Linked DNA regions of Homo sapiens: all the other regions are linked to region 1. The links come from fine-mapping of genetic effects on gene expression. A gene starts in region 1. Each other region holds a variant in brackets. All regions are shown on one strand. Distances are between the middles of the regions. Region 1 holds the start of SORD (sorbitol dehydrogenase). Region 2 overlaps SORD (sorbitol dehydrogenase). Region 3 overlaps DUOX2 (dual oxidase 2). Region 4 has its middle 94 kb from the start of TRIM69.

Region 1 (7,972 bases):
TCTTCCTGCTTTAGTCCTGGGAGGGTGTATGTGTCGAGGAATTTATCCATTTCTTCTAGATTTTCTAGTTTATTTCCATAGAGGTGGTTATAGTATTCTCTGATGGTAGTTTGTATTTCTGTGGGATCGGTGGTGATATCCCCTTTATCATTTTTTATTGTGTCTATTTGATTCTTCTCTCATTTCTTCTTTATTAGTCTTGCTAGCAGTCTGTCGATTTTGTTGATCTTTTCAAAAAACCAGCTCCTGAATTCACTGATTATTTTGAAGGGTTTTTTGTGTCTCTATCTCCTTCAGTTCTGCTCTGATCTTAGTTATTTCTTGCCTTCTGTTAGCTTTTGAATTTGTTTGCTCTTGCTTCTCTAGTTCTTTTAATTGTGATGTTAGGGTGTTGATTTTAGATCTTTCCTACTTTGTCTTCTGGGCATTTAGTGCTATAAATTTCCCTCTACACACTGCTTTAAATGTGTCCCAGAGATTCTGGTACTTTGTGTCTTTGTTCTCATTGGTTTCAAGGAACATCTTTATTTCTGCCTTCATTTCATTATTTACCCAGTAGTCATTCAGGAACAGTACAGTTTTCATGTAGTTTTGTGGTTTTGAGTGAGTTTCTTAATCCTGAGTTCTAATTTGATTGCGCTGTGGTCTCAGAGGCAGTGTGTTGTGATTTCTGTTCTTTTACATTTGCTGAGAAGTGCTTTACTTCCAACTATGTGGTCAATTTTGGAATAAGTGCTATGTGGTGCTTAGAAGAATGTATATTCTGTTGATTTGGGGTGGAGAGTTCTGTAGATGTCTACTAGGTCTGCCTGGTGCAGAGCTGAGTTCAAGTCCTGGATATCCTTGTTAACATTCTGTCTTGTTGATCTGTCTAATATTGACAGTTGGATGTTAAAGTCTCCCATTATCATGGTGTGGGAGTCTAAGTCTCTTTGTAAGTCTCTAAGGACTTGTTTTATGAATCTGGGTGCTCCTGTATTGGGTGCATAAATATTTAGGATAGTTAGCTCTTCTTTTTGAATTGATCCCTTTACCACTATGTAATGGCCTTCTCTGTCTCTTGATCTTTGTTGGTTCAAAGTCTGTTTTATCAGAGACTAGGATTGAAACCCCTGCTTTTTTTTTTTTTTTTTTGGCTTTCCATTTGCTTGTTAGATCTTCTTCCATCCCTTTATTTTGAGCCGATGTGAGTCTCTGCAGGTGAGATGGGTCTCCTGAATACAGCACACTGATGGGTCTTGAATCTTTACCTAATTTGCCAGTCCATGTCTTTTAACTGGGGCATTTAGCCCGTTTATATTTAAGGTTAATATAGTAGGCTTCAGAAGGTTGGTAATAACATACTTCTCCCAGCTAAAGAAGGATGTTTGAACCCATCATGCATTGTTATGTGTGAATTTGATCCTGTCATTTTGATGTTAGCTGGTTATTTTGCCCATTATTTAATGCATTTTCTTCCTAGCATTGATGGTCTTTAAAATTTGGCATGTTTTTGCAGTGGCTGGTACTGGTTGTTGCTTTCCATGTTTAGTGTTTCCTTCAGGAGCTCTTGTAAGGGAGGCCTGGTGGTGACAAAACCTCTCAGCATTTGCTTGTCTGTAAAGTATTTTATTTCTCCTTCACTTATGATGCTTAGTTTGGCTGAATATGAAATTCTGGGTTGAAAATTCTTTTCTTGAAGAATGTTGAATATTGGCCCCCACTCTCTTCTGGCTTGTAGAGTTTCTGCTGAGAGATCCAGTGCTAGTCTGAGGGGCTTCCCTTTGTGGGTAATCCGACCTTTCTCTCTGGCTGCGCTTAACATTTTTTCCTTCATTTCAACCTTGGTGAATCTGGCAATTGTGTGTCTCGGGGTTGCTCTTCTTGAGGAGTATCTTTGTGGTGTTCTCTGTATTTCCTTAATTTGAATGTTGGCCTGTCTTGCTAGGTTGTGGAAGTTCTCCTGGATAATATCCTGAAGAGTGTTTTCCAACTTGTTTCCATTCTCCCTGTCACTTTCAGGTACACCAATCAAATGTAGATTTGGTCTTTTCACATAGTCCCATATTTCTCGGAGGCTTTGTTCATTTCTTTTTACTCTTTTTTCTCTAAACTTCTCCTCTCACTTTATTTCATTAATTTGATCTTCAATCACTGATATCCTTTCTTCCATTTGAATGAATTGGCTGTTGAAGCTTGTGCATGCATCACATAGTTCTTGTGCCATGGTTTTCAGCTCCATCAGGTCATTTAAGGTCTTCTCTACACTATTTATTCCAGTTAGCCATTCGTCTAATCTTTTTTCAAGGTTTTTAGCTTCTTTGCGATGGGTTTGAACATCCTCCTTTAGCTGGGAGAAGTATGTTATTACCAACCTTCTGAAGCCTACTTCTCTCAGCTCATCAAAGTCATTCTCCGTCCACCTTTGGTCCGTTGCTGATGAGGAGCTGTGATCTTTTGGAGGAGAAGAGGCACTCTGGATTTTAGAATTTTCCGTTTTTCTGCTCTGGTTTCTCCCCATCTTCGTGGTTTTATCTACCTTTGATGCTGGTGACCTACAGATGGGGTTTTGGTGTGGATGTCCTTTTTGTTGATGTTGATGCTATTCCTATTTGCTAGTTTTCCTTCTAAGAGTCAGGTCCCTCAGCTGCAGATCTGTTGGAGTTTGCGGGAGGTCAACTCCAAACCCTGTTTACCTGAGTATTACCAGTGGAGGCTGCAGAACAGCAAATATTGCAGAAGAGCAAATGTTGCTGCCTGATCCTTCCTCTGGAAGCTTCGTCCCACAGGGGCACCCGCCTGTATGAGGTGTCAGTTGGCCCCTACTGGGAAGTGTCTCCCAGTTAGGCTACATGGGGGCCAGGGACCCACTTGAGGAGGCAGTCTGTCCATTCTCAGAGCTCAAACACTGTACTGGGAGAGCCACTGCTCTCTTCAGAGCTGTCAGACAGGGACGTTTAAGTCTGCAGAAGTTTCTGCTGTCTTTTGTTCACCTATGCCCTGCCCCCAGAGGTGAGGTCTACAGAGGCAGCAGACCTTGCAGAGCTGCGGTGGGCTCTGCCCAGTTCAACCTTCCCGGCTGCTTTGTTTACCTACTCAAGCCTCAGCAATGGCGGACGCCCCTCCCCTGCCAGGCTGCTGCCTCAGACTGCTGTGCTAGTAGTGAGCAAGGCTCTGTGGGCGTGGGACCCACTGAGCCAGGCACAGGATTTAATCTCCTGGTGTGCCATTTGCTAAGACCGTTGGAAAAGTGCAGTATTTGGGTGAGAGTGTCCTGATTTTCCAGGTACAGTCTGTCACAGCTTTCCTTGGCTAGGAAAGGGAAATCCCCCAACCGCTTGCGCTTCCCGGGTGAGGCAATGCCCCTCCCTGCTTCGGCTCACCCTCCATGGGCTGCAGCCACTGTCCAACCAGTCCCAATGAGATGAACCAGGTACCTCAGTTGGAAATGCAGAAATCACCGTCTTCTGCATCGATCACACTGGGAGCTGCAGACCGGAGCTGTTCCTATTTGGCCATCTTGGAACGGAATCTGGATGATTTACTTTTGGCTACCAATTTGGAAGCCTCATGCCAGCAGGCTACTCTAGATCTCTTGAACTTTCTAGGTAATCAAGCGGGCAAGGTGTCTAAACTGAAAGCCCAGCTCTGCCTACAACAAGTCAAATATCTAGGCCTAATCTTAGCCAGAGGAACCAGGGCCCTCAGCAAGGAACAAATACAGCCTATACTGGCACCGGTCCCTCAAGGCGTAGCACCAACCAGATTGATAAACTCACTTATCTGACCTTGTGGCCCTCGCCCAGAAACTGACTCAGTCCAAGAAGACAGCTTAGATCCCCTATGATTTCATCTCTGACCCAAACAATCAGCACTCCTGACTCACTGGCCTTTCCCCACCCATCAAACTATCCTTAAAAACTCTGAGTCCCCGTATGCTCGAATGCTTGGGGAGCCGGATTTGAGCAATAATGAAATTCCAGTCTCCTGCATAGCTGGTTCTGCATGAACTCTTTCCCTATTGCAGTTCCCCTGTCTTGATAAATTAGTTTTGTCTAGGCAGCAGGCAAGGTGAATCCATTGGGCGGTTACATATTGGGGAGGGGGGACTGTAAGGGAATGAAATCCTGAGCATTATCCTCAAAGGAGGGAGGGGCCTTATAGACTTAGGCCTATCTAGAAGCGCCTCTCTCCTCAGAGAGTAAAACCTCACTGTTTCTCAGAGGGCTGAGAGGCTTGAAGGAAGAGTTTGGGCAGAAACTCTGCTTTGAATAGAAGCAGCAGATCCAGTTGAGAGAAAGAGGTTCACAAATTCCATTTCATGGCTTTTTTTTTTTTAAAGACAGATTTTCACTCTTGTTGCCCAGGCTGGTGTTGAATGGCATGATCTCAGCTCACTGCAACCTCTGCTTCCCAGGTTCAAGCTATTCTCCTGTCTCAGCCTCCCGAGTAGCTGAGATTAAGGCGCATGCCACCATGCCCGGCTAATTTTTGTATTTTTAGTAGAGACGGGGTTTTCACCATATTGGTCAGGCTGGTCTCGAACTCCTGACCTCAGGTGATCCACCTGCCTCGGCTTCCCAAAGTGCTGGGATTACAGGCAAGAGCCACTGCGCCCGGCCTCATGTCTTTTTTATACTTAAGCACCAGGCCCATGTAATGATGCACGAATTCATTTACTCCTACTCGTGCCAGGCCCTTTCCTGGGGGCTGGAGACAAAGGGCCGACGTGGACGCTGCGTCATGGTAGCACCTGTCTCGCAAAGTGCACACCGTGCTCCACCCACAGCCTCAGCATTCTCGTTGCTAGGAATATGGACCCTCAGGCAGCACCTCAGACCTAGACCTACTGTATCAGAATCTCTGTGCTGGTCCTGAGAATGTGCATTCTCAACAGCGCCTCACATTCCCCACCCCAATTCTTCTGCAGCTAACGTTTGAGAGCGCTGGTCTGGTGCCTACTGCCTCTGCAGGCGGTTTTCAAGGCAGCCGTGTGTGCTTGCATGTGAGGCGGCAAAAACAGCGCGCTGCAGGGCCGGCGCGGTGGCTCACGCCTGTAATCCCAGCACTTTGGGAGGCGGAGGCGGGTGGATCACGAGGTCAGGATATCGAGACCATCCTGGCTAACACGGTGAAACCCCGTCTCTACTAAACAAAAATACGTGGTGGTGGGCGCCTGTAGTCCCAGCTATTCGGGAGGCTGAGGCAGGAGAATGGCTTGAACCCGGGAGGCAGAGCTTGCAGTGAGCCGGGATCGCACCACTGTACTCCAGCCTCGGCGACAAACAAACAAACAAACAAAAAAAACAGCGCGCTGCAGATGGAGCCAGCACCCGGGCTTCTCGCTCCCAGCCCCCTCCCGAAGCCCCGCCCCGCCTCCGGGTCTGGAGGAGGCTGGGAAGCCCCGCCCCTCCACGCTAGCGCCGCCCAGGCTGGCACAAAGGAGGAAGCCTAGTCCCGCCCCTGCGTGCGGCGCTTCTCCCAGGCCCCACCTTCCATCCAGTGCCCTGGACCCTCGGCTGGGTAGCGCCACCAGAGCGACCAAACGTCCCGCGCCTTCCAGGCCGCACTCCAGAGCCAAAAGAGCTCCATGGCGGCGGCGGCCAAGCCCAACAACCTTTCCCTGGTGGTGCACGGACCGGGGGACTTGCGCCTGGTAAGCTGGGAAGGAGGGTGGGAAGCATACCGATCCTGCCTCACTCTCCTCTGAGCCCAGCCATAGTCCTGGCTTCCCACTTCCAGCCTGGCGCCGGCCCCGCACCTTAAGCGCCCTGGCTGCCCAGATCCCAGCTGGTTCCCCTCGGGGTGTGGGGGCAGCAGGTAGTGGCTGTTGCGAAGGGCAGGGATCTAGTCGTGTGCCTCCCGGAACCTAGCCCCGTGGCTGGCACGTGGCCGGTGCCCAGGACGGTTGCAAACTGTTTGAATGAAGCTTTCTCTCTCCTTTGCCAGCTGCAGATTCATAGTCCAGCCTCTTGTCATTGACCTTTCCAAAGGAAATGCTAAGGCTGTCTGAATTATCGGGGCAGACCGTGCAGAGCAGAGAAAGGGGGGCCAGAGGACACTTAGAAACAGCAGAACTTGTATTTAACTCCCTTGCTTGGGACTGATAAACCTCCCTTGCAGGATTATGATGATCACAAGAGTACTCAGCACTTAGTACGTGCTCAGGAAGTGCCAGCTCCTTCTCCTTTCCTTCCAGTCTAGGCCTCCATCTCCAGAACCCCTGCTGTTCCCCTTGCCTGTGCCAGACTTGTGGATCTTGATAGCTCCCTTGTCTGTAAGGATCCTTCTCTCCCTAAGACCCTGTCTGGTTCACTTTCCAGCAGTTTTTCTTTCCAATCCCGTGCCTCTGTCCCTTTAGGAGCATTCTGTATGTGTGTCCTCTGCCTTAGACCCTGCCTTTTGCTCCCTGGCTTGTGGCACCAAAGTTTAGGAAGTGGCTGAGTCAGCAGCCTAGTCATGCCAAGCCTCCCTTGACAAAGTCCCTCTCAGATGGGCCTGGGATGGCAGTGGGTATGTGGGATGAGTGCCAGCCATCTCTGCTGCTCCCCTGTACCTCTTTTCCCTCAAAGTACATGCGTCAGTATGTAAACTGCAGTAATTCAGAAGCTTATCCAGGTTAGCAGTTCTTGACTATTTAAGAATCTGTGGTGTCCCCTCCACAGAATGCAAATAGACTGAGTTTGGCAACAATTTCAGACTGCTCAAGGACTCCCTTTAAGCCGCTCTAAGCCCCTCTATAGAACCCTTGTCCCAGCTGACTCTCCATCTCCTCAGTTGAAGAAAGTACCATACCCAAGGTGATAGGTTTTGTTAGTTAACAGAGCCACGACAAGGACTCAGATGTTCAGACTCCCCATTCTAGTGCTCATTCCACTCTTTGGAGCCTCCACCCAAGGTCCTGAATTAAAGTGAGGCTGTTAGTGTTTACTGTTGCAAATGCCAGATGGTATTATGAGTAAGGGAAAGTGGTCCAGCTCTACCCAGCTTGCAGAGTGATTTCCAACTCAGTACTTCATTCCACAAACATTCACTCATGAAAGGGTGCCTGCCATGTGCCAGGCACTGGGCTGAGGGCCCAGAAAGGAGGACACAGCCCCTGCTCCCAAGTTTACTGAGGGAGGCAGACAGATAAAGTCAACAATTATGACAGAGCCCGAGGGCTTTGATGGAGGCCTCAGAGAGAAAAGACGCCACAGGGAGGGGCCCTTGGCCCTCTATCTGCTCAGAGCCTGCTTAAAAGTCATGCACCTAAGGTGCAGAAACACAGTTAAGTTCTCCTTCATCTTACCTCAAACTCATGGTCTTCCACTGCTCAGGCAGACTACCTCTACTATGGTTCCGTAGACAAAGCTTTGAAGATTAGAGCAGCAGCGAACTAACCTTGATCTCATCAGCTTTGCATTAGAACCCACTCTCTGACTGGATTAGGGGCTAGGTTGGGGTGGCTGTAACCTGAAGTATCTAGAAAATATGATGGGCTAGAGAATTTCACCTTTGGTTGTGTGCTGGAACACTAGCTGGGTAAAAGAGTTCAGAGGAGGATTTAGGAAAACACCTAGGCTCAGTTTGAGAATGGGAAGTGGTAGCGTCATTTACTAGTCAGAGTAGATTAAAATGATGAGATCAGGTTTGAAAAGTTGAGTTTAAGATGTCTCTGGAGGCCAGGTGTGGTGGCTGATGCCTGTAATCCCAGCACTTTGAAAGGCCAAGGTAGGCAGATCGCTTGAGGTCTGGAGTTTGAGACCAACCTGGCCAACACGGTGAAACTGTCTCTACTATAAATACAAAAATTAGCTGGGTGTGGTGCCACATGCCTGTAATCCCAGCTACTTGGGAAGCTGAGAATCGCTTGAGTCTGGGAGTCAGAGATTGCAATGAACTGAGATCGTACCACTGCACTCCAGCCTGAATGACAGCAAAACTATGTCAAAAAAAAAAAAAAAAAAAAGATGTCTCTGGGACAGGACACAAGGTGCCTTTGAGAAATTTC
Region 2 (5,398 bases), 53 kb after region 1:
CATTCTTCTGTCTCTCACCGCACTGAGCACAGTGATCCCCAGAAAGCTCTGGAACAAGCACAGCACTCACAGGGAGTTCTGGGGAAATTTTCAGGAGAAATTTCACTGCTGCCTGTGACCCACTCCAAGTGGGGAACTGATAAGGCAGATAAACATTCAAGGAAGACAAAACCCATTATGGCTCATACTGTTGAGGTAAACATCTCTGGAACAAAAAGATTTCTAACTGCCAGCCTGCATGCATGTATGAAGCCTTTTTTAAGCCACAGAATACAAGTGGCCCATCTGTCTCATGTTTATAGTTTTCTCACCACCGGTGAGCTTAGAGGGCCAGTGGTTCCTTCCAGCTCTGATGAAAGTGCTGCCTGTGGAGGGGCGCTCTGGGGGAGGAACAGGTGCTTAGACTGTGGAGGTGGCTGAAGCCAATATTGGGTCCCGAATCTGTAAAGCTTTGGAAGATGTTCCCACTGTGCCTGGTTCTCCATGGGTTAAGTGTATGTTTTCACAATACACTTTAAAGAAAACCGTGTTTACTCTCCCGCTCAGTTAAGTTTGGTTGGCAGGTTGAGCAGTTCAGCAGTGTACACAAATCACATTCTCAGGAATTTTTGGATGCTCAGCTGATGCAACCAGAAGATACTTGTGTGATGACAATATGTTATTGTAAGTGGGAAGTCAGTATTTCTTATCTTCTGAGCTTTCTTGTTTTTACCTCCTTTACAGGCCACTCGCTCTGGTGGGAACCTCGTGCTTGTGGGGCTGGGCTCTGAGATGACCACCGTACCCCTACTGCATGCAGCCATCCGGGAGGTGGATATCAAGGGCGTGTTTCGATACTGCAACACGTGAGTATGCCGTGGGTGAGCCGGGATGCCCAGCCTCCAGCAAGACCATGGCAGGCCCCACTCAGCCTCTGGGCCCATGAGTCTCTGCCTGTTTGTTCATGGGGGGCACTCCCTGGCCACACTGATAGCTGTGTGATATAACAGGGATCCAAAGAGAGAACACTCACTGCCAGTTAAAGAATGGGAGGAACAGAAGGATGGATGGAGGGAGGGAAGGAGGGGATTTTGAAGCATAGTCTTACTGAGTGTCTGCTGCTTATCCCCCCCAGGCCCCTTTTTTCCCCCTATTTTCTTAAGTTGCCAGGTCTCCATTTTCTCCCTTTAAAGGGAAGAAGGAGAGAAAGGAGGACAAAAGGAAGAAATCAAGTCCTGTGGCTTCCGTTCCTTAGCCCTAGGGCCCACCCTGGGGAGCGAAAGGGTCTTAGTTTGCCCCACCCATGTTCTGCAGCTCCACCCTCTCCCCTGCTGGGGCCCTCTGGCTGGGACCCCTCTCCCCAGCAGTGTCCCTTACTCCTGGCTTTAGAGGCTGTAACTCCATGCCCTCATCAGGGCGCCAGTTTTCCAGTAAGCTGAGCTGTTAGTGGGTGTGACTGGATTGTCCCGGGCTGCCTCCCCACGGCTTCTCTGCCTTTTCCCAGTGGCCTCCACCATGTGCCTTGTACCTTCATGCCACAGGAATTCTAGGCTCCATGGCAGACGTGGCAGAGTGAGCGGGTGGGTGAGGGGTGGGGGCAATTGCAAATAGGCTCTGTACCCCTGAATCATAAGCCATAAGGTCCTTTCCTGGGTTGTTGGCCTGTAAAATTGGCTTTGCAGAACCACAGTGCTATCAATAAATACGGCCAAGCTGATCTAGTGCTTGGTAGTTTGGGGCACCTGGCTCTTTCCTCTTGAAGGTTGAATATAATGCTCGTGCTCTTTTACAGGTGGCCAGTGGCGATTTCGATGCTTGCGTCCAAGTCTGTGAATGTAAAACCCCTCGTCACCCATAGGTTTCCTCTGGAGAAAGCTCTGGAGGCCTTTGAAACATTTAAAAAGGGATTGGGGTTGAAAATCATGCTCAAGTGTGACCCCAGTGACCAGAATCCCTGATGTTAATGGGCTCTGCCCTCATCCCCACAGTCTTGGGATCTCAGGGCACAATGGCTGGACATGGGTGGGCTCTGATGCAGAACTTTCTCTTTTGAATGTTAAGAATAACTAATACAATTCATTGTGAACAGAAGTCCTTAAGCAGAGGAATTGGTGTGCCTTAAAGATACAATCTGGGATAGTTTGGGGGAACTTGTAGCCAGAATGCCCTGTTCATGCTGAGCAAAGTTCAGCAAGTAGAGCAGAGTTTGGCAGGCAGGTGCCAGGAACTCCCCTTCTTCCTGGAGTGCCTTCATTGAGGAAGGAAATCTGGCCCTTGGGTTTCCTGGTTCCACTGCTACTGACCCAGAGGGGAATGAGGGCTGAGTTATGAAAAGATAACTTCATGAAGACTTAACTGGCCCAGAAGCTGATTTTCATGAAAATCTGCCACTCAGGGTCTGGGATGAAGGCTTGTCAGCACTTCCAGTTTAGAACGCAATGTTTCTAGAGACATATTGGCTGTTTGTTTTGATGATAAAAGGAGAATAAGAAAAGGCATCACTTTCCTGGATCCAGGATAATTTTTAAACCAATCAAATGAAAAAAACAAACAAACAAAAAAGGAAATGTCATGTGAGGTTAAACCAGTTTGCATTCCCCTAATGTGGAAAAAGTAAGAGGACTACTCAGCACTGTTTGAAGATTGCCTCTTCTACAGCTTCTGAGAATTGTGTTATTTCACTTGCCAAGTGAAGGACCCCCTCCCCAACATGCCCCAGCCCACCCCTAAGCATGGTCCCTTGTCACCAGGCAACCAGGAAACTGCTACTTGTGGACCTCACCAGAGACCAGGAGGGTTTGGTTAGCTCACAGGACTTCCCCCACCCCAGAAGATTAGCATCCCATACTAGACTCATACTCAACTCAACTAGGCTCATACTCAATTGATGGTTATTAGACAATTCCATTTCTTTCTGGTTATTATAAACAGAAAATCTTTCCTCTTCTCATTACCAGTAAAGGCTCTTGGTATCTTTCTGTTGGAATGATTTCTATGAACTTGTCTTATTTTAATGGTGGGTTTTTTTTCTGGTAAGATTTAGACCTAAAT[C/T]GCATCATGCCAACTTGTGACTTTGAGACTATTCATCAAGAATGAGGATATAGTAGCCATGACATAGCTTGAGCTATAGCCTTTAATTCCTTACTTTGGCTATGGGTGGAGGGTGAGTTTGAAGAGGTTCTGATTTTCTTGTAACCTGGGAAAGCCATGACCTTGTGCCCGATTCTTTCAGATTGCTTTGGGTAATAAATATTGGTGGTGGTATCTGACTCATGCTGCTGTTTATGGTCCTGTTTAGTGGGGAATGGACTCAGGTTACCCATTTCCCAGAGGGAAGGATCCCAGGATTTTTGAAGGTTACATATTTTCTGTACCAAATATAATTTCATTGACATGAATTATCTCTAATCCTCATGACAAGCCACATACACAATCATTTTGTAGATAAAGAAGATATAAATGCCAGAGGAGACCTTAAGATTGTCTTACAACACAACCCTTCAGTTAACGAGAGAGGAAATTGAGGCTCAGATTGGGGAAGTGACTTGGCAAATCACACAGTGGGTTAGTCAATGGCCCAGGATTAGACAGAACCCAGGAATCCTGACATCAAATCCTTTACAACATGCTGCCTCTCATAGGCCTGAGGTGTCCAGTCCTAGAGGACAAATGATGCTCCCCATGCCACCACCCCCACCAAGCAGCTCCTACTGATGAGAAGATGCACTAAGCAGTCTTGGTGGAAACATCTTCCTCACGCCCTGTGCCCCCTTTCAGGTGCCCAGAGAAGGAGCTCCAGTGTCTGCTTCAGCCAGGGCTTTAAGAGAGAAGGAAGCTGGGAGTGAGGGGCAGAGGCTCTACCAGAGAATGTCTGCTGGTGTCTTGGAGGCACTTCCTGCAGCCTATGCATGCCTCGTGAAGCCATTTCACTGCTGCCCCTTCATCCTCCTCCTCCCTGAGCCCTAGGTAGAAGTCAGTGTGTGGAGGAGGCCACCCAGAGATGACCCTGACCAGGCCCCACCGCCTGTAGCCAGACCCAGCCTCTGTCCCAGCTGGCTGCTAATTTCTGAGCATTTCTTCCCTGTTATTTGGCCTCTGTACCTTGAACCTAGGTTGACATCATGAGCAGAGGACAGTTCTTAGGAAAGGCAAATATCCCATAAATCCTATTTGCCTCTCTTTCTCCTAACCTCTGGCTCCACCAACTCCCCAACAGGCCTCCTGCACACACAATAGGAGTCAGGAGGGAGGAGGCAGGACTGTGCTACACAAGGGAGACTGGGTGGGGAAGATGTCAGAGAACCAGTGACTGAGTGCAGAGGTGACTTCACACCAGCATCTGCTGTAGCCAGAGGTGGGCTGCAAGAGGGAATTAGAGGAGCCAACATGTCCTCTTTCTCCTTTAGGGTCCATGGAGCAGTCCGCTGCTTCCAGGTTGCCTGTGGGGTCCTTCCCAGCTCTCCGCCCTGACACGTCTTCACTCCCTAGCACTCGTGGAGCTGACTGGGTGGGGACCTCAGTGTTGACTGAAAGCGTGAATCAAGTGCCAGGCACTGGTGACAGAGCACACAGAGGCTGCTGGGCCTCCCAAGGTCGGGGAGCTTGTGGGGAATTCACATTCTTGGTTCCGGGACTGATTCACTGAGTCAATCAATATTGATTGAGCACTTAGTTGGTTGTGGTGGTGGTAGGAATGAATTCCTGGGCTTCCTGCAGCCCCTTTCCATGAATCTATACATATCAAACATGTGCATGCATTTGTAAACATTAATGGGAGTGTACTTTACTTTTTTCATTTTACTCATAAACAGACGAGGACTTTAAAAAAATCACAATTATTAAATAATTCCCATTACTATACCTGACAAAACTAATAATAATTTCATAATAGCTAATACCCCGTCAATCCATGCCATATTTTCCCTCATCTAAAAAACAGAAAAAATTACTTTTTTTTCCCCCAAAGACAGGGTCTTGATCAGAGCTCACTGCAATATCAAACTCCTGGGTTCAAGTGATCCTCCTGTCTCAGCCTCTGGAGTAGCTGGGATTATAGGCATGCACCACCATGCCTGGCTACTTTTTGTAGAGAAAAAAATTTAAAAAGGTCTCACTATGTGGCCCAGAGTGTTCTTGAATTCCTGGCCTCAAGCAATCTTCCTGCCTCAGTTTCCCAAAGCACTGAGATTACAGGCATGAGCCACCATGCCCAGCCAAAACTTTACTTTTTTACACTTGCTTTTCTGGAATCAGGATCTAAACATATTGCATGCGGTTGATATATTAAGCCTGTTTTATTTTTTATTTTTTCTTCTTTCTTAAGCCTCTTTATTATAGTTCCCCCTACATTTTGGTTCACATGCCACTGTTATGTTGAAGAAACTGGGTCCTTTGTCTTCTGGATACCGTTTTACAAACA
Region 3 (5,834 bases), 73 kb after region 1:
TGCTGTTGATAAATAGGTGAACTCATAATCATCACGCACCGCAACTATGGAACACAGTCTCCTGCCTTTTCTCATCTGTGTAATTGTCTGGGCCAATATTGTTATTTGACTTCCCAATACTCTCACAGACATTTGAATAAATGAGGAAGAGGCCCAGAGGAGTTAAGGGATTTCCCTCCATAGCTATTTGCAGATAAAGTGGGCACTAGAATCCAGGTCTCTTGACTTCTGATTGGTGCTCTTCCAGCCTTGTCAGAGAGATACCTTCAACAGAGGGGGTTGGGAACCAGAGGCATTTGGCCTGGCTGAAGAGGTAGGGTGGGGCCAGTGAGAAGACAAACCTGGTCTGAAACTCTCCCTCCACAGGTCCTACTGGCTGGATAACTGTATGACCCAGCAATTCCACTCATAGATACATACTCAAGAGAAATGAGTGCATGATGGCCACCAAAACATAGGTACAAGAACACTCACAGAATTTTTATTTATAATCATTCAAAATTAGAAACAACCCAAACGTCCATCAACAGAAGAATAAACAAACTGTGGTACATCTCTACAATAGAATACTACTCAGCAATGAAAAGGAACAAACTGCTGATACACACAACAGCATGGATGAATTACAAAGGCATTATGGTGAGTAAAAGAGGCCAGTCTCAAAAGAGTATATTTAGTAGGACCAAAACTGGATTTGGTAGAAATCACATCAGTGGTTGCTTCTAGGAGCTAGGGGAGACGAAGTGGAAGGGGGTACAAGGGGAGTTTCTGGGGTGATGGAAATGTTGAAACATTCTATGTCTTGACCTGGGTGGTGGTAAAACATGTACATGATTATTTATTATACCTCGATGTAAAATATTTTACAGCTCAGCTTTTTAGGAAAGAGCCCGATGAAAAAGGAAAAGAAAAGTTAAAGAGCTGAGTATGGAGGGGATGTTTCAGCCTGGCTCTTGCGTAAGGTGACCAGCTGTCCCAATCTGCCTGGGACTGATGGGGTTTCCTGGGGCAAGAGACTTTCAGTGCTAAAACAGGGAGAGTCCTGGGCAAACTAGGACAGCTGGTCACCCAACTCTTGTGGAAGAGGGGAATTGAGATCGAGTACTGAATATCTGGCAGAGAGGCTGGAATCCTTCAGCCCCAGAGCCCAGGGACCACTCCAGTAGATGCAGAGAGGGGCCTGCCCAGGGGTCAGGGCAGTGGGTATCACTGGTGACATCAAGAATATCAGGGCTGGGGAGGCATCTTTGTTTCCTGGTGCCCTCCTCAAAGTTGCTGACACTTTGGGGACGGGAAGGGGTAGAAGTAGGGCTGCTCCTTTTGGAGCTGGAGGGAATAGACCTGGAGACAGAGTTGAGGCAGTCGGGCTGTCCAGGTTCTAAGCATCACAGCTTCTGCACTGGGCTCTGAGGAGATTCTCAGCCAGAGGATCCCAGCCTCCTCCTCCCTCAAATGTCAGTCCAAGCAAATACCAAAGCAACGCATCGATTTTGTGGAAGTCAATTAGAGATGTGGGGAGCTATCGGAGACAAGCACTATTGTACCTTTTCACCTCCACACTTGTCACAAGCAGGGACTGTCTCCTCCCCACTTTGCTTGCCACGCCTGCCATGGCTTGAGCTGGGGTGAGGAGTGGTCTTTATCTTCTTTGGGAGATCCTGACTGGTTGCGCACTTGCTAAGGGCAGGAAGTCTGGAGGGCTGCAGGAATGGTGCCGTTGATAAACAGGTGGACTTATAATCATCATGCACTGCAATTGTAGAACATAGTCTCCTGCCTTTTCTCATTTGTATAATTGTCTGGGTCAATATTCTCCCAATATTGGGAGGGGCTCTGCAGCCCTCCAGCTGAGGCCTAAGGTGGATTCTGATGGAGAGATTGCCAGCAGGGCTGGGCAACTTAGGTGCACAGAAGAGAAGGCAGGATACTGGAAGCAGCAGCCAGGGAGGACAGGCTCAGAAGTTCTCATAGTGGTGCATGAAGTGGGCTCGGTCCTGCCTGTTGACGAGCTGACAGGCCTTCTCTACATTCTTGGTCATTCCTGGAGGGCCGCAGCTGAACACCCCGATCTTGCGCACCTGTCAGGAGATTGGAGAGAGAGAGGGGCCTGCAGCCTAAAGGTGCTCACTCTCCTTGGGAAAAGCTGCTTCCTGAGCCTGGCTGGAATGACTAAGGCTTCAAGCCCAGGCCTTGAGGAGGAGGCTTAACGTGGAGGGGGTGGAAGTCCCCCTTTAACAGCTGACCTCATCCTGGGGCCAGGCAATCGGGTGGAGTTCTCTGCTCAGAACAGAGTGGCAGGGTGCTTCAGGGCCAGGATGTCCTGGCAGGAGAAGGCCAGAGTCCCAGGGTGGGAGGGAGTGGGACTGACCTGTGGGTGGACCTCCTGCAGGGAGTTGAAGAAGGGCTCGAAGGGGGGACGGCCAAAGTGGGTGATGGAGCGCAGGCCCGTGAACAGACTCCGGTTCAGCACTTTCTGGAAGTGCCGCTCGCAGATGTACTGGGGGCACAGGGGCAGGTCAGACCAAAGACAGTCAGGGCCAGCACTCAGCCCGAGCCAGCCCACATAGCCCAAGAGACAGAGAATGGGGAGGGGAGGGAGCTGGAGGCTGAGGATCAGGCCATCAGCTCTGTGCCTCCTGCCAGCTCAGCCTGGCCGTCCACCCACCTGCCCTGGCCATCCTGCCTTACGCTGCCAATCCATCTGCCCGCCAAGTTGCCCTGCCTGGCGGGCCCTGACATACTAGCATGGTGGTCCTGAGGTCGAACTTCTCAGCCAGCTGGGTGACATAAATGTGCACAGACACCAGGTCCTGGTGGTCGTTCTCCTCCACCTCTTGGATGATGTCAGCCAGCCACTCAAACTGACGCTGGGTCCGTGTCACCCAGATGAAGTAGATCTGGGGACACAGGGCTGGAGATCAGGACCCAGCTCAGTTCAGCCTCCCTAGATCCCAGGTGCCTTCACCTGAGAGGCTGGGAAGCCCCAGACCACCTGCAGACACCAAAGCTGTGGCAGGACCCACCAGCCTGATCCCAGGCTTCCAACTGACAGGTCCCAGCAGAGGCCCTTCTGGCTATACCACCAACCTCCCTCCAAGTTTGGCATCTCAACCACTGGGTAAGAATGACCCCTTCAGACTCAGTTCCTGGAGCCAGGAGCTTTCTCTCATGCTCCACCACTTGATGCGGGTCACAATTCGGCCACCTATGCCCCATTTGATGAATGAGGGAGGGATGCTCACCTTCTTACACAGCATTTGGCTGCCCAAGGATGACTTGAAGACCAGGTCTTTGAGGATGGAGGCAAAGGGGGTGACCCCAATGCCCCCTCCCACCAACACTGACACCTCAAATTTATGCCACTCCTGATGGCCCTCTCCAAACGGTCCATCAAGGTACAGCTGCCAAGAGAGGGGGGAGATGAAATGAGCCTGACCCTGCCCCAGCTCTGAGACCAGAAACGGAGACACAGGCAGAGGGAGGATACAGAACATCCTAGTCTTTTC[T/C]GAGGCACCCCGGTCCTCTCCCAGGCTGGCTTTGGGACGGCTGGAGCTTCTAGTCTCAGGATAGGGAAGGGCAGAGATCCTCTGCCAGTGCCAGAGGCCCGGAAGCAGGGTTCCCAGTGACGGGCACCTTTGGGTATCCAGCACAGCCATTGCCCTTTGGGGATGAGTAGATCTCCCTGAGGCGAGTGGTCCAGGGCCCCACTGCCCGGATGTGCAGGCTGAGTGTGTCCTCATGGGGCGCGGAGGTCAGTGTGAAGGGGTGGTACTCGGTGGTCCCCAGAGCCAGGCAGGCGATCCGCACCCACTGTCCTGACTTGTACTCAAAGCCTTGGGGCCTCTGGAATTGCAGGTAGGTCACTCCTGGAGGTCATAGACAGGGAAAAGCACAGATGAGAAGGCCTGCTCCTGGTACCTGAGGACTGATAGGCACCTGTCCTCTTCACACCCCTGAGGCCTGGGGAGTAGTCACATGGTCTGAGCAAGCGGGGCTCCTGGGGCTGGGAGTAGGAGGGTCCCCTTCTCTGTTTCCCAGGTAATGCAAGAGCTGGGTTTCTCTGCTCCCCTGTTCCAGCCCCTCTCCTCCTCTCTACTCCCTCTTCCCATGGAAGGCCCAGGCCTCATACCACTGCCTTGAATACCAACCTGCTGGGTAAAGGGACTCAGGCTCACCAGGGACCATCTCAGTGGCTACCAGACCTCCATTTGAGGGTTACCTTTCTACACACCTCCTGCACTATCATTTATCTAACACTTTTCTTTAAATTGACTAACTTTTCCAATTCAATTAATCTTGGCAGGGAACTTTATTGCTAAGGTAAGTGGAAAACCAGTATCATGTGTCCTACATAGAAGACAACATATTTTGTTACCAAATTTTAGCTGGATACTGTTTGTACCATAGCTGAGCCTCAGGCCTGATCTCTTCATTGAAAAAGGAGATCAGCAAGTGCTGGAGAGTAGAAAGGCATACTAACACCACTCTGAGATTTTGTCCTTAAGTAATCTCAATTGAAATAACATTGCAATGAGATTAATTTTTTTACAACATGAGTCCTGAAGGTTAGACAGTCCTGAGATACATAAAATCATCTTTTGCCACCCTCTATGATGATACCAATCCCGACTTTGGCCAGCACTGACTCTCAACAACCCAGACTGGCAATCTGGGCATTTGCCTGTCTCTGAGAGAAGGAATGGGACAGGCATATGTGGCTTCCTGCCCTGCACTTCCCCTGCACCCAGGCCACACATGTGGGGCCCTTTCCCATCCTCAAACCCCTCTGTATGCACGTTCAGCCACCTCTTCTCAGGTCACTTCTCACCATCTGCAAGTCTCCTGGGAGCTAAGCACAGCCCTTTCTGGGTCTACTTCTATCAGGAAACCTTCAGGAACCCCCGAGAGTGGTTTTTTGTTGTTGTTGTTTTTGGAGACAGAGTCAGAGGCAGTGATGGGGTCAGGAGACCTGGTGAACTGTCTCCCCATGTCTGAAGATTTGGCCTCTGTCGCTCCCGACCCAGGTCAGGCTGGGCCTGATACCTGAGGGCAGCAGCTCCGCCTTCACCACGCTGATCTCCACCTTCTTCCGGCTCAGGCTCACCAGCTTGTCACCTCCATAGATGATTGCCGGGACCAGGAAGTAGATGTGGAAAGTGGGCAGCTGGATCAGAGCATAGCTGCCATGGATGATGAGCTGGAGACACGGCCAGTTAGTACAACTCAGGCCCAGCCAGGCCCCTGCCCGGCATCCCCTCTTGCCCAGGCACTAGGCCTGTGCCGGGGAGATAGGGCTGAGGTCTGGGGTCTTAAATCTCAAAGTCTCATTCTGAGATCTTGGATCCAATTCTCCCTCTTTCACCTTCCTGTCCCATCCTGAGCTCCCTGCTCCATGGGCTGGCCCAGGGAAGTCCCTCACCAGGGCATAGAGCAGGATGTAGAGGTGGTGGGTCAGCCAGAAGCCCCGGAAGCTGCGGCGGCGGAAGTGGTGGGAGGCGAAGACATACATGATGGCCAGGACCAGGAGCAGAAGCACACCTGTCATACCTGGGGGCAGGAAGACAGGGCCAGTGAGTAGTCTCAGGACTTCAGCTTGGGCTGAAAAGACAACAGCACATTCCCCTATCCTTCCCTCCTTCCTCTCTCATCCCTCCGGGGCCCCCAGAAAAGCCTGCCTGGAGGGATTTGAGCTGGGGCTTGTCCTGAAGGCTAGAAACAGACCCCATGGCCAGTATAGACAAGTGAGTATTCACAGAGAGATGGAGACAAAAGCAGAAGTCCTCAGACAGAACCCCCAGGTCCCACGTTTCCTACCTGGGACGGTCTGGAAGAAC
Region 4 (7,972 bases), 190 kb before region 1:
CTCCAGGAAGAAGGGGAGTTCCTGGCACCTGCCTGCCAAACTCTGCTCTACTTGCTGAACTTTGCTCAGCATGAACAGGGCATTCTGGCTACAAGTTCCCCCAAACTATCCCAGATTGTATCTTTAAGGCACACCAATTCCTCTGCGTAAGGACTTCTGTTCACAATGAATTGTATTAGTTATTCTTAACATTCAAAAGAGAAAGTTCTGCATCAGAGCCCACCCATGTCCAGCCATTGTGCCCTGAGATCCCGAGACTGGGGATGAGGGCAGAGCCCATTAACATCAGGGATTCTGGTCACTGGGGTCACACTTGAGCATGATTTTCAACCCCAATCCCTTTTTAAATGTTTCAAAGGCCTCCAGAGCTTTCTCCAGAGGAAACCTATGGGTGACGAGGGGTTTTACATTCACAGACTTGGACGCAAGCATCGAAATCGCCACTGGCCACCTGTAAAAGAGCACGAGCATTATATTCAACCTTCAAGAGGAAAGAGCCAGGTGCCCCAAACTACCAAGCACTAGATCAGCTTGGCCGTATTTATTGATAGCACTGTGGTTCTGCAAAGCCAATTTTACAGGCCAACAACCCAGGAAAGGACCTTATGGCTTATGATTCAGGGGTACAGAGCCTATTTGCAATTGCCCCCACCCCTCACCCACCCGCTCACTCTGCCACGTCTGCCATGGAGCCTAGAATTCCTGTGGCATGAAGGTACGAGGCACATGGTGGAGGCCACTGGGAAAAGGCAGAGAAGCCGTGGGGAGGCAGCCCGGGACAATCCAGTCACACCCACTAACAGCTCAGCTTACTGGAAAACTGGCGCCCTGATGAGGGCAGGGAGTTACAGCCTCTAAAGCCAGGAGTAAGGGACACTGCTGGGGAGAGGGGTCCCAGCCAGAGGGCCCCAGCAGGGGAGAGGGTGGAGCTGCAGAACATGGGTGGGGCAAACTAAGACCCTTTCGCTCCCCAGGGTGGGCCCTAGGGCTAAGGAACGGAAGCCACAGGACTTGATTTCTTCCTTTTGTCCTCCTTTCTCTCCTTCTTCCCTTTAAATGGAGAAAATGGAGACCTGGTAACTTAAGAAAATTGGGGGATAAAGGGGCCTAGGGCGGATAAGCAGCAGACACTCAGTAAGACTATGCTTCAAAATCCCCTCCTTCCCTCCCTCCATCCATCCTTCTGTTCCTCCCATTCTTTTTTTTTTTTTTTGAGACAGAGTCTGGCTCTGTTGCCCAGGCTGGAGTGCAGTGGTGCGATCTCCGCTCACTGCAATCTCTGCCTCCTGGGTTCACACCACTCTCCTGCCTCAGCCTCCCAAGTAGCTGGGACTACAGACACCCACCACCATGCCTGGCTAATTTTTTGTATTTTTAGTAGAGACAGGGGTCACCGTGTTAGCCAGGATGCTCTCGATCTCCTGACCTCGTGATCCGCCTGCCTCGGCTTCCCAAAGTGCTGGGATTACAGGCATGAGCCGCCACGCCCGGCCTTCCCATTCTTTAATTGGGAGTGAGTGTTCTCTCTTTGGATCCCTGTTATATCACACAGCTATCAGTGTGGCCAGGGAGTGCCCCCCATGAACAAACAGGCAGAGACTCATGGGCCAGAGGCTGAGTGGGGCCTGCCATGGTCTTGCTGGAGGCTGGGCATCCCGGCTCACCCACAGCATACTCACGTGTTGCAGTATCGAAACACGCCCTTGATATCCACCTCCCGGATGGCTGCATGCAGTAGGGGTACGGTGGTCATCTCAGAGCCCAGCCCCACAAGCACGAGGGTCCCACCAGAGCGAGTGGCCTGTAAAGGAGGTAAAAACAAGAAAGCTCAGAAGATAAGAAATACTGACTTCCCACTTACAATAACATATTGTCATCACACAAGTATCTTCTGGTTGCATCAGCTGAGCATCCAAAAATTCCTGAGAATGTGATTTGTGTACACTGCTGAACTGCTCAACCTGCCAACCAAACTTAACTGAGCGGGAGAGTAAACACGGTTTTCTTTAAAGTGTATTGTGAAAACATACACTTAACCCATGGAGAACCAGGCACAGTGGGAACATCTTCCAAAGCTTTACAGATTCGGGACCCAATATTGGCTTCAGCCACCTCCACAGTCTAAGCACCTGTTCCTCCCCCAGAGCGCCCCTCCACAGGCAGCACTTTCATCAGAGCTGGAAGGAACCACTGGCCCTCTAAGCTCACCGGTGGTGAGAAAACTATAAACATGAGACAGATGGGCCACTTGTATTCTGTGGCTTAAAAAAGGCTTCATACATGCGTGCAGGCTGGCAGTTAGAAATCTTTTTGTTCCAGAGATGTTTACCTCAACAGTATGAGCCATAATGGGTTTTGTCTTCCTTGAATGTTTATCTGCCTTATCAGTTCCCCACTTGGAGTGGGTCACAGGCAGCAGTGAAATTTCTCCTGAAAATTTCCCCAGAACTCCCTGTGAGTGCTGTGCTTGTTCCAGAGCTTTCTGGGGATCACTGTGCTCAGTGCGGTGAGAGACAGAACAATGGATAATTCAATCATGCTGGTTGTTCATTATAGTCAGCAGCAAGCATTTATTGGGACCATTCTAGGTGCTAAACAGTGGAACTAGAGAAAGGCACATGTCACAGCCTCCATTTCTGAGATGAAGGATACACCACGATCACAGCCTCCACTTCTGAGATGAAGGATACACCATGGAGAGAGGCCTGTGGTGCCGTGAGCAAGAGGTGAACTCAGGGTTTGAGTGGTGTGGGAGTGACTCCCAGCGCTGCTGCTTCAGAGCTGTGGCACCCTGGACGTGCCCTCTCAGCCCATTTTCTAGGGAAACTACTTCCTTATCAGCACTTCCTCTCTACCTGGTGGTGAGGAGGAACACCAACTGGCCATTCCAAGCTGCCAAGATGCCAGCAGTTTGCTGACCCAAGGTCAAGGAATGCTGGAACCACCTGGACACTATCCTGTAGGTATGGCATCTGCATCAAGGATATGACATCAATTCTACCCCAAGGCATCTGCCATGTCTCATCACAAACACTATCCAGTCATAACCTGGCAGGACGGCGATGCTCAGATTTGTCCATATTTGGTCCAGCCACCTAGCCTGCTCATTGGCGGGGTGGCCTATAGCATTCTACAGCACCCGTCATGCGTGACGTCAGGAGAGACACTGCTTCAGGCCTGGTGAGGCCCATGGGTCACATTCACCTCCATGCCTGCCTCAGGTAGCCTGGCAACCAGGCCCCCACCATCAACAGTGGAAATGCCAACTGTTCCAAATGCTCTAAGGGCAGGGCACAAGAGGAAGGAGAGCCATGTCCTTTAAGTCCCCCAGCTTATACTGCCTCTCTGC[G/A]GGGTGGAGGTCACTTACCTGCTGACAACTTGAAGACAGCAGATGCAACCTACTCATGTCTTAGCCCTCAAAGTGCCCAGCACAAAGCCTGGCACATGGTAGGTGCCCAAGACATACCATGGGTAGATCAATCACACACAGATCCATTGTTCCTCTCTGAGCTTCGGCTTCTTTTTGCCCCTTCCCACATGGCGACCACTGCCTATGACAGTGAAGCAGAGGGCTGGCGGACTCCAGCTGAAACTCACGACACTGCCAAGGTGGCACCCGCTCCTCCCTCTCCCCCACTGGTTCCTCAGCTCCCAAGGCCGCTGGGCAACTTAGTAGGAGGAGGTCTAGGCAGCTCTGCTACTCAGCTTGGTGGGTCAGCCTTCCCTAGAATGTCTCATGTGATGCAAAGTGCCCTCCTGCTGTGAGCCTCAGAAGGAAGGAGGAAGCCCACGCTACCTGGGGAGGCTGTCTGGGAGGCAGGGACAGGAGACCCCTGTGGTGGCGGCTGCCTGCTACCCTCTCCAGCCCTGGCCCTGTCCCCCCACCCTAGCATGGTTGTTCGTGCCCTCCTTCCCTTCCTCTCCTAAGCAGCGGGGCAACTCAGGCACTGGGGCCTGGCAGGGCTGGGCCTGGGCCTGACTTGGCTTGCCTCAAACAAACCACAAATCCCTCAGCATAAAACGGTAACTGGTTTTCAGGGCTGTTGTGCAGATTAGGCCTCATGTTTATAAAGTACAGCAGAGAACCTGGCATACAGTAGGGCTTGGAACCTGGAAGTTGTTATTTTCCCTTCGTTTCCTCATACTTTGATCTGTCAGTGCCACTCCCTCCCACCACCTCCAACTTCCTGCCAACTTCCCATAAGTGGCTGGTGGGTCGCTGAGGGGCGAATCAGGCATTGGCAGCTTATCTGTTCCTAGGTCTGGGAGACAAAACAAGCAGTAGTCAGCTGTGACCCTGGAAAATCACCTCACCTTCATGACTAACTGAATGACTGTCACTTTATATCTATGACTAAAAGACTGCAGTTTTCCTCAATAAAATAAGACAGAGATTTCCCACATACAATTAAGGCATGGTTCCCTGTTTTTCTTCTTGATCTTTTTACCAAAACTACTGCACTTTTAACATCACAGATATGATCATGAAGCCAACTGCGTCCCCAAAGTGTGTGTCCTTAACATTTTTCAAGGCCCATGTATAGCTGTTATCTTGTGTGAACCTCAGATGGCCCAATGAGGATGTAAGGCAAGTTCAAGTACAGGCTCCACACTAGAGATAAGAAAACAGAGATGGCAAAAGATGAATAAGTTTGGCTTGGGGCTCACGCAGCAAGCTGGTAAAGAAGTTTGACTCCCTACTTCTGCCTCCTTCACTCCCCTACGCTGATTCCCCAAAGCTGCCCTCAGCCCACTCACGTAGATGCCTGCCTGGATGGAGGCCTCTGCCCCGTGCACTCGATGGTGACTTCCGGCTTGCACCCCAGCAGACCTTCTACTTTCCTGGCGATTTCCTGAGGGCTCTCCTTGGAGATCTGGAGGACTAAATCAGCCCCAATCTCCTTGGCTTTGGACAATCGGGTAGCAGACAGATCTGAAGGTAAAAAAAAAAAAAAAAATTCTTTCAAACAAGAGAAATCTGATGACTCATTAGGAAGAAAAGAAAATGGAGGTGTAAGATCTGATGGCAACAAAGCTCTCGTGCAATGGGTGGTGGTGTTGAGCCCAACACACATACTCTTCACACCAAGCTTGTCCAACCTGCAGCCCACATGCAGCCCAGGATGGCTTTGAATATGGCCCAACACAAATCTGTAAACTCTCTAAAAATATTATGAAATTAAAAAACAGTTTTGTAAAGTTCATCAGCTATCATTAGTGTTAGGGTATTTTATGTGGGGCCCAAGACCATTCTTCCAATGTGGCCCAAGGAAGCCAAAAGATTGGACACCCCTGCTCTACACCCTCATATACCCCCATATCCACCATACAGCTACACACACACACACACACACACACTCTCACACAAACTCTCTCTCTCTCATAGCTTCTCCTAACACAAAACACACACTCACACTCCTCTATATCTCCACAATCCATATGACACTACACACTCACCCCCTCCACACTGTCACGGATAACCTCTCCTCACACATGCACATACAGTAGGACCAGCTGTTTCCCAGTCAAGGAGATTGATAAAGAACAAAGTCTTACCAGTCACCACTACTTGAGCTGCTCCCATTGCCTTGGCCACGAGCAAAGTGACTACCCCGATTGCCCCTAAACAAAGCAAAAGATATAAGATTGTGAAATATTAAACATCTGCTCTCCCACTTGTCCAGGCCACGGACAGGAACCATATCTTTTGTGTGTCTCTAGCATCTATCCCAGTGCCTGGCATGATAAGACCTTAGCGGCTGTTTGTTGAATGCAGAAGAGAATGAATCCATGAAGAATTATTCTCTACATAAAATACGCTCCTAGTGCTGGGTTCTATTTAATCCTCTCAAACCTCAGAGCTAAAATTTTCCCACTTACTCCTGGGCACTAGTGGAGATAATCTCAAAGAACCACGGGATTCAAGGAAACACAAACTTACTCAGAAAATAAGAAATCTCAGAAGGTCTGGACTTGTTTTCCTGTTCTTTCTTTGCCCCTACCTTCGTGAGAACCCATCACACCTCCCCCAGAGAGAGACATATTCCTTTTAGGTGCCCTCTGAGGACCACCTGGAGAGGGTTCTTAAGTGAGCTGGCTCCCTGGGTTGGCCCAGGTGCCCAGATAGCCCCAGGATACTCAGGTATCCAAGGATTTGCCTGAGACACCTGCTTCCCCATAGTATCTGCATGCTATGTGACACTATGGTTTTAATATAAAAATCAGACCCACAGAATGAAAGCAATGCAGAATATCTTTGGGGGTTTACTTTTTGTACACATCCCCTAAGAACAATTTTGTGAGCTCCCTCAGAAAACAAAACACTGAAAAATAATACCTGAAATGTCCAACAAAGCATGATTAAAAAACTACATGGCTACTAAAAATTACGCCATAACTCTTTATCTATTGACATGGAAAAATGTTCACAGTATATTGATTTTTTTTTTTTTTTGGAGACAGAGTCTTGCTCTGTCACCCAGGCTGGAGTGTAGTGTTGCAATCTCAGCTCACTGCAACCTTCGCCTCCCGGGTTCAAGCAATTCTCTCACCTCAGCCTCCTAAGTAGTGGAGATTACAGGCGCCCGCCACCAAGCCTGGCTACTTTTTGTTTTTTTAGTAGAGACAGGGTTTCACCATGTTGGCCAGGCTGATCTCAAATTCCTGACCTCAGGTGATCTGCCTGCCTCAGCCTCCCAAAGTGCTAGGATTACAGGCATGAGCCACTGTGCCCAGCCTGATTTTTAAAAAAGAGTAGGTAAAGGAAGCGTATTTAGCATGGTCTCAGAAAAAACCAACTAACTAAAAGATTCTATACCCAAATATTAATAGTGGTTCTCTTGGGCTAATCGGTAATGGGATTACAGGTGAATTTCTGTGTGTGTGTGTGTTGGGGGCAAGGCATGCATGTGTGTGGTATGTGTGACTTATTTTCCTTTTCTATGGTAAAAAGGTACTGGATCCATGCAGATTTTTATAAGAATCTGTCACCTGAGTCCCGCAGTCTGCTAGCCCATTGTGGCAAGTCTATTCTACATCCATCACCCCTCTTAGGAAGCCGTGTGATCACTTATTTGGCCAGCCAAAGAAAATCACAAACAAGTATGAGGAACACCAGATCACACCCACAAGGAGTGTGAGCGTACTGTCTGGGTCACCAGAATGATTCGTTCTGAGGCTGCTAGGGCTTGTTCCAGATGGCTGGAAAGATGGCTGGAAACAGGGGATGAGAGAAGGCAGCTAGCTACAACCCTACTGCAGGCAGACTGCTGGCTCACAGTGGTGTGGGAGCAGACCACTGCTCACTCCTCCCACTGGCTGGGAGCAGGGTCTACCTTATTCATAGATGGGACTAGGCCATCACTTTGCTGGTATAATTTGAAAGTTCCAAGAGTTGCCCTTCCCTTTACTATCAAAAATATTTCTCTAAGGTGGAGGTTGCAGTGAGCCAAGATCACGCAAATAAAAAAATTTTCCTAGTTTCCCATCAAGGGTTCAAAAATAATCGCCAGATTAATTCCCTTTTTTTTTTTTTTTTTTTTTTTTTTTGAGACAGAATCTCGCTCTGTCGCCCAGGCTGGAGCGCAGTGGCATGATCTTTGCTCACTGCAACCTCTGCTTCCCAGGTTCAAGTGATTCTCCTGTCTCGTCCTTCCATGTAAGTGGGACTACAGGGGGCGCACCACCACACCCAGCTAATTTTTGTATTTTTAGTAAAGATGAGGTTTCATCATGTTGGCCAGGCTGGTCTTGAACTTTCGGCCTCAAGTGATCCACCCGCCTCAGCCTTCCCGAGTGCTGGGATTATAGGCATGAGACACTGTGCCTGGCACAGATTCATTCTTTTTGTTTGTTTGTTTTGAGATGGGGTCTTGTTTTTTTTGAGACAGGGTCTTGTTCTGCCACCCAGACTGGAGTTCAGTGGCACAATCATGGCTCACTGCACTCTTGACCTCCCAGGCTCAAGTGACCC

Evidence for each region. PIP is the estimated chance that this variant, and not a neighbour inherited with it, causes the effect.
Region 2: its variant is the best candidate, but not a certain one, in a credible set for the expression of SORD in NK cells (Gilchrist 2021, PIP 0.89).
Region 3: its variant is the best candidate, but not a certain one, in a credible set for the expression of SORD in transverse colon (GTEx, PIP 0.64).
Region 4: its variant is the best candidate, but not a certain one, in a credible set for the expression of SORD in whole blood (TOPMed, PIP 0.89).

The regions. Positions count from the first base shown.
Region 1 is chr15:45,017,715-45,025,686 of GRCh38, forward strand. SORD (sorbitol dehydrogenase) reads left to right here and starts at 5,481. Exons shown (of 9, transcript NM_003104.6): 1 at 5,481-5,635. The coding sequence starts at 5,570. RefSeq lists a silencer at 5,261-5,430 and an enhancer at 6,200-6,850.
Region 2 is chr15:45,071,594-45,076,991 of GRCh38, forward strand. It overlaps SORD (sorbitol dehydrogenase), which reads left to right. Exons shown (of 9, transcript NM_003104.6): 8 at 724-845; 9 at 1,772-5,398. The coding sequence ends at 1,937. Among named protein-coding and RNA genes, the nearest start is that of DUOX2, 40 kb to the right of the region's middle. The variant C/T (reference allele first, on the strand shown) is at 3,031.
Region 3 is chr15:45,092,195-45,098,028 of GRCh38, forward strand. DUOX2 (dual oxidase 2) reads right to left here. Exons shown (of 34, transcript NM_001363711.2): 27 at 5,815-5,834; 28 at 5,420-5,547; 29 at 5,044-5,197; 30 at 3,634-3,866; 31 at 3,243-3,401; 32 at 2,742-2,897; 33 at 2,369-2,497; 34 at 456-2,078. The coding sequence ends at 1,956. Among named protein-coding and RNA genes, the nearest start is that of DUOX2, 19 kb to the right of the region's middle. The variant T/C (reference allele first, on the strand shown) is at 3,507.
Region 4 is chr15:44,826,771-44,834,742 of GRCh38, forward strand. It overlaps the pseudogene SORD2P. Among named protein-coding and RNA genes, the nearest start is that of TRIM69, 94 kb to the left of the region's middle. The variant G/A (reference allele first, on the strand shown) is at 3,350.